Linked DNA regions of Homo sapiens. The gene in region 1 interacts genetically with each later gene. Each region holds a gene or a part of one and is shown on either strand. Other genes may lie near its edges.

Region 1 (3,500 bases):
GTCTATCATTTCAACACGGGTTTATATATTACAATAAAAGCTAGAATAAAAAATGCAATTTATCCACTAAATCTTTCAAAGTCCTCCCTAAATACACCTTTTGTTTGTTTAATGGAAACAACCCCAAAAACTTTTTTGTCCTCTCTCCTACATATTTGATAACAGTACGGGATAAACAATCAGCTTTTACAAAATCCATGCTTCTAATAACATAAATACTTGATTTTGTTGGTATCACACCTCTAATTTTAGTTAACTTCATTTTCAGCACAGCTCTCTTCTGAAAACAATTCATATACAAAGTCTTTTAAAGGGAAAGCCACCTTTTTAATGCAGGTGCCAACAAGGCTAAGAAACAATATAGAGTTTAGCAAAGCAGGGCCATGGCCCTTTGCAACATTCCTCTGCAATTATAATTAAGAGGCTATGATTGCAGAAAATAAACTACCTATTAAGAAAGAATCTACCATAAAGCTCTACCTTACATGGTGACAATACAAGGGATATATAGTTCCTTGAAAGCAGCCTGGTCTCATCATTTCTTAGATATGGAAAACCCACTAGTGTTATTACAAAGCATCATGTAATTAAATTAATACAAGGGAAGGCATTTCTTAGTTATCACTACTAAAGAAATCATTAAAGTAAAAATAATGAAAGTCTAGTCTTCACTAGAAATGCAGATTCTATGAGGTTTCGTGGGATGACCCTGCCCATAATAATTTCCAATATCACCTAAAACAGAAAAGACACAAACTAAACAATAACTTCCATCTATCTGCCTCTGTGTAACAATTACCCAAATGAAATGTCTCTAACATCTACCACATCATAACATCAAATACTCTAGTTATTTGATGCACACTGAAAATCCAGTGAAAAGCCCCAGGCCCCAATAATTGGAGACTACAGTAGCAATTTCTGAGCAAGTGTGTTTGAAAAAAAAAAAAAGCAGTAATTAACACTTGTTGAGTGCTTACTAGAAGGCACTATTAAGTACTTCACATATCTTTTAATCTTGTCAATAACCTTATGATGTGGGTATTATTACATTATTCCTATTGTATAATAGTAAAGAAGGATGAGAAACAGACAAGTCAGGTATTATTGCCTAAGTCACATAGCCAGCAAGTGGAGGAGCTAGATTCAAACTCTGGCAGGGCAGCTCACAGCTAATGTTCTTAAGTAATAACAACAGGGAATGTCAAGGACACTTACAGATTCACTAGAAATGGCAGGGTGAAGGCTGAAAAAAAGACATAATATGAAATATAAATATTTTAAATAAAGGCTTAGGGTCTTGGTTAATTTAAAGAAAATGAACACAAGAAACTGTACCTAATATATCAGAGTAATTTACTTTTTACTAATAGGGTCCTCAAATCGTATACGAATACGCATAGCTTTCAACAAGTTTCTCTGTTGAAATTTAGGGACCCCAGTCCCACAAAGAATACACAAAGAACCTAAATGATACATGTATACAGGGCAGCCAAGCTACAGATAATTTTTTGGTTTACCAAGAATTCTTCTAGCTGGGCGTGGAGGCTCACACCCGTAATCCCAGTACTTCGGGAGGCCGAGGCGGGCAGATCACGAAGTCAAGAGATCGAGACCTTCCTGACAAACATTGTGAAACCCCGTCTCTACTAAAAATACAAAAAAAAAAGCCAGGTGTGGTGGCATGCGCCTGTAGTCCCAGCTGCTCAGGAGGCTGAGGCAGGAGAATCACTTGAACCCAGGAGGCGGAGGTTGCAGTGAGCCGAGATCGTGCCACTGCACTCCAGCCTGGGTGACAGAGCGAGACTCTGTATCAAAAAAAAAAAAAAAAAAGAATTCTTCTAAAATATAAAGGCGTTATAAAATAACCATCTCCAACTTTTTCCCACTAATTCTGTATCTCACAATTCTCTAGATGGCTACTTTGTAGGCATCCACTTTGTTTTCTTTTTGAGATGGAGTTTCGCTCTTGTCACCCAGGCTGGAGTGCGGTGATGTGATCTTGGCTCACTGCAACCTCCACCTCTGGGGTTCAAGCAATTCTCCTGCCTCAGCCTCCCAAGTAGCTGGGATTACAAGCGCCCACCACCATACCCGGCTAATTTTTGTATTTTTAGTAGTGACGGGGTATCTCCATATTTGCCAGGCTTGTCTCAAACTCCTGACCTCAGATGATCTGCCCGCCTCAGCCTCCCAAAGTGCTGGGATTACAGATGTGAGCCACTGTGCCCAGCCCACTTTTTCATAAAGTATAAAAAGGCTAAGAAGTTTTAAGACCCTACAATTTTTATTCATCATTTAAATGGTCAGTAATGTATTAATAATTTGGGCATTTTAAATGTTACTGATTTGCATCAAAATACAGATTATCCCTAATCCAAAAATTTGATATCCAAAATGTTCCAAAATCTGAACTGTTTTGAGCACCAACTTAATAGTCAAGGAAATGCTAACTGGAGCATGTCAAATTTTTGATTTTCGAATTAGGGATGCTAACTGGTAAATAATTACAAATATTGCAAAACCTCCCCAAATCTGAAATACTTCTGGTCCCAAGAATTCAGATAAAGGATATTCAACCTGTACATAAAAATACTTTACCAATGAAATAAACATTCAGAAAAATCAGCTCAAGGTGGTTCCTTGAACACAACAAACTTTAATTGTCAATGCAAAGAAATTACTGTAAAGAATTATTTATCTGCAAAATTTTACAAATTGCTCACTCTTCAAGAAACTAACAGAATGGAAGTGTCTACTAAGGTCCACAATCTCTTATCCATATTCCTTCAAATTAGATATGTTTCAAATTTTACACTTTTTCAGATTTTGTAGAGATAATATGGTACACCTGCCATATATTATGTAATAGCCTAGAGTTTGGGTGGCATGATATAATCAAACATTAATATTTCTACAGCAAAAAAGTGTGAATATTCACGGTATTCACAGAGGAATAAAGATCATAAATAGCCTCACATTGATTCAGGTTAAGATTTTGATTCCAAATGAGTTACCAAAATTTTTTTCAATTTTCAGGTCATTTTGGATTTCAGAACTGTGAAATGTACCTTTAGCCACAAAGATAAGTTGACTGCAAAAAGAGACTCAGGAAAAAAAAAACAAGAGAAAAGAAAAAAGTTTATTATTTTCATCTTCCAGACTACTTAGCCCACTATCCATTTTTTATACATATTAACACATCTTTAATACATATTTCAAGGAGGTTATTCCTCCTTGAGACATTCGGAGCCTTGGCTTCCATAATACCATTTTCTTGGGATTTTACTTGTACCCCAAGGCCACTCCTCCACCAACCTTTAAACATCAAGGGTTTTCAGTTCAGCCATTCATTTAATAAATCAAGAGCCTACCATGTGCCAAGCAGGTACTGTTCTAAGGGTTTGGGTTCATCAGTGAACAATAGTTCTGCCCTAAATTCTCTTCTCTCGGGAGTTAAGTCCTGGGACCAGTCGTCTGTCTATGCTGTATCTTTTTCA
Region 2 (3,500 bases), on another chromosome or scaffold:
ACTAGGTTTCTCCATGTTGGTCAGGATGGTCTCAAACTCCCGACCTCAGGTGATCCACCCGCCTCAGCCTCCCAAAATGCTGGGATTACAGGCGTGAGCCACCGTGCCTGGCCCACACTCCGTTTCTCTACACTCTCACACAGCACTTTTGACACCAACTCAGAGAAAACCAGTTTTCTTCTACTATACTCTCATAACCGAGAACAATTCTGTGACCAGATGCGTGGGTCTTTTCCAAGTAATTCTCCAAGTCTCCAAACACCAGCTGGGTGTCCTACAATTTAACTCAATTCAGACTCTATCTCCCACAAGTTAAGGACTTTATCGGCCAGATGCAGTGGGCTCACCTAAGCACAGTGCTTTGGGAGGCCAAAGTGGGAGGACTGCTTGAGGCCAAGAGTTTGAAACCAGCCTAGGAAGTATAGCACCCTGTCTCTACAAAAAATTTAAAAATTAGCTAAGCCTGGCAGTGGTGCACACCTGTAGTCCCAGCTACTCGGGAGCATGACATGAGCCCAGGAGCTGGACACTGCAGTGAGCTATGACTGTATCACTGCACTCCAGCCTGGGTGAGAGTGACACTCTGTCTCTAAAAGAAAAAGAGCTGTCCCATAAGACTGCTCCCACTACAAATGCCATTTGCACATCCCAGGGTCCAGTACTTCTGCCCAGCCACCTATAAATTGGGAATTCCCACAACCCCCTCCTCGATTTGATTGATTTGCTAAAGCAGCGCCCAGAACTAAGGCAGGCACTTCACTTCCCATTAATGGTTTATTATAACGGATACGACTCGGGGTCAACCAGATGGAAGCAATACAGACAGCTTCAATGGCCCCTCCGTACATGCCACCCTCTAAGCACTTGGTCTTTCTGGTAACCAGCCCCATCCTGGGCTATCTAGGAGCCCCATCCTAAATCACCTCATAAGCATAAACTCAGCTGTGATCAAAAGGGGCTCATTATGAATTTTAAAAGACACACCTATCACTCCTATGACATGTGGCGCAAAGACCAAATATATTCCATATCATACCTCAGAGGGCAAGTGGGTGCGGCCACAGGTGGGGCATAGGGGAGAAGTCACAGGCCTTGAGGGCCACAGTAAAGGGGTTCCAGGAGCATCCAGTGCAGTGGGGAGCTGCTAGAATGTTCCAGGCACGGGAGTGGCACGGTCTGATAATGACTTTAATTTCTCTGGACATGCTGATGGAATGGATGTGCAAGTGAGGGCAAGAGATGAGGCAAGGGTGAACACCAGGGTCTCGGCTGGGACGTGCTGTTAGAAACATAAAAAGGGGGCCAGGTGCAGTGGCTCATGCCTGTAATCCCAGCACTTCGGGAGGCTGAGGCAGGTGGATCACCTGAGGTCAGGAGTTTGAGACCAGCCTGACCAACACGGAGAAACCCCGTCTCTACTAAAAATACAAAATTAGCCAGGTGTGGTGGTGCATGCCTGTAATCCCAGCTACTCGGGAGGCTGAGGCAGGAGAATCGCTTGAACCCAGGAGGCGGAGGTTTCAGTGAGCCGAGACCCCGCCATTGCACTCCAGCCTGGGCAACAAGAGACAAACTCTGTCTCAAAAAAAGAAAAAAAAAAGAAAGAAATATAAAAAGGCGCCAGGCGTGGTGGCTCACGCCCATAATCCCAGCACTTTGGGAGGCTGAAGTAGGCAGATCCTTTGAGCCAAGGGGTTCAAGACCAGCCTGGGAGATAACATCAAGACCTCCACTTCTAAGAAAGTAAAACCTAAAACATAAATTTTTAAATAAACATAACAAGGCCCCCCTTCCTCGAGGCTGACCAAGCCCTAGAGCAAGGCTTGGCAAAGACAGGCAGGGCCGGGGTTCAGCCCCTGGTTCTTGAGGTAGAGGGTGGAGGCCAGGGAGATTCTGAGAGGAAAACGGAATTCTGAGTTCAAAGAGGTTAAGCCATGCAGAACAGAATCCCGCCTCAAGTCTCTTTGACTCCAGGGCCTGAGTAACTGATTCAGGCCGAGGATCAAAAGGAATAGGATGAGAACCTTGAAGGTCGAGGAAGGGCAGAGTCAAGAGGAAGGGCAAGTAAAGAGCCACTCCCACAGGCACCCAGGAGATGCCTCCAGGAGGCAGGCAAGGCCTTCAGGTGCCCAGCCAGTCCAGGCTGTGCCAGAATCACATTTGATCATCACAGGGGCAGTTTCAGCTCCCTGGGCACAATGAGACATCCACTATGCCCCTTTACTGGGACTTTCGGAGCAAGATGGGTCGCACACAGCAGACCCTCCCCCTCAAGTCTCCCACTGGAACAGGTGAGCAGCAACTGTCACATCAGCCACCTGCTTCCTGAGCCACTGGGGCGTGACTTGCCAGTGGCAAAGAGAAAACTTAAAAAACTCCCAAGAGCTAGCACAGTGGATCACGCCTGTAATCACAGCTAGTCAGGAAGTGGAGGCTGGAGGATCACTTGAGTCCAGGAGTTAAAGACCAGCCTAAGTAACACAGCGAGTCTCCGTCTCTAAAAAAATAAAAAGTGGAAAGAAAAAAAAAACACCTCCTCAAAGAACCATTTTAAAGTCGATCACTATTAAAAACGGGGCCCGTGCTACTCTATCACACTCACAGCTGGCTGCACACAGAGCAAAACGGTTCACAGTGACAAGTGTCCACATACATAAATGAAGCTATGCCCCTTTAGGGAGGTAACAGAGTCCCCAAAAGCAAAGCTCTGGAAACCAGTCTGGGACTTAAAAAAACATTTGAGGCCAGGAGTGGTGGCTCATGCCTGTAATCTCAGCAGTTTGGAAGGCCAAGGCAGGCGGATCACCTGAGGTCAGAAGTTTGAGACCAGCCTGACCAACACGGAGAAACCCCGTCTCTACTAAAAATACAAAATTACTGGCCGGGCGCAGTGGCTCACGCCTGTAATCCCAGCACTTTGGGAGGCTGAGGCGGGCGGATCATGAGGTCAGGAGATCAAGACCATCCTGGCTAACATGGTGAAACCCCCGCAGGGCATGGTGGTGGGCGCCTGTAGTCTCAGCTACTCGGGAGGCTGAGGCAGGAGAATGGCATGAACCCGGGAGGCGGAGATTGCAGTGAGCCAAGATCGTGCCATTGCACTCCAGCCTGGGCAACTAAGCAAGACTCCGTCTCAAAAAAATAAATAAATAAATAAAAATTAAAAAAAAATACAAAATTAGCCGGGCATGGTGGCGCACGCCTGTAATCCCAGCTACTCAGGAGGCTGAGGTAGGAGAATTGCTTGAACCTGGAAGGCAGAGGTTGCAGTGAGCCGAGATCACACCGCTGCACTCCAGCCTGGGAGAAAAGAGTACAACTGTCTCCAAAAAAAAAAAAAAAAACCACACATTTGAAAGGGGCCAGGGTTGGTTTCCACCCTACTAACATTTACCTATTTTCTAAAGAAAGCCCCCTTCCAGTCGGGCGCAGTGGCTCACGCCTGTAATCCCAGCAGTTTGGGAGGCTGAGGCAGACGGATAACGAGGTCAGGAGATCAA

Evidence for each region. Genes that interact genetically often act in the same process or in processes that back each other up.
Region 2: changes in HDAC2 (region 1) and SMARCA4 together harm fitness more than expected from each alone (negative genetic interaction), as found in Homo sapiens cells (one large-scale study listed by BioGRID).

What each region holds. Positions count from the first base shown.
Region 1 is NC_000006.12:113,961,149-113,964,648, forward strand, and holds part of HDAC2 (histone deacetylase 2), read right to left. Parts: intron 1,247-3,500; exon of another isoform or gene 1,219-1,246; intron 1-1,218. UniProt on the Homo sapiens protein: Histone deacetylase that catalyzes the deacetylation of lysine residues on the N-terminal part of the core histones (H2A, H2B, H3 and H4).
Region 2 is NC_000019.10:10,967,530-10,971,029, reverse strand, and holds part of SMARCA4 (SWI/SNF-related matrix-associated actin-dependent regulator of chromatin subfamily A member 4), read right to left. Parts: intron 1-3,500. UniProt on the Homo sapiens protein: ATPase involved in transcriptional activation and repression of select genes by chromatin remodeling (alteration of DNA-nucleosome topology).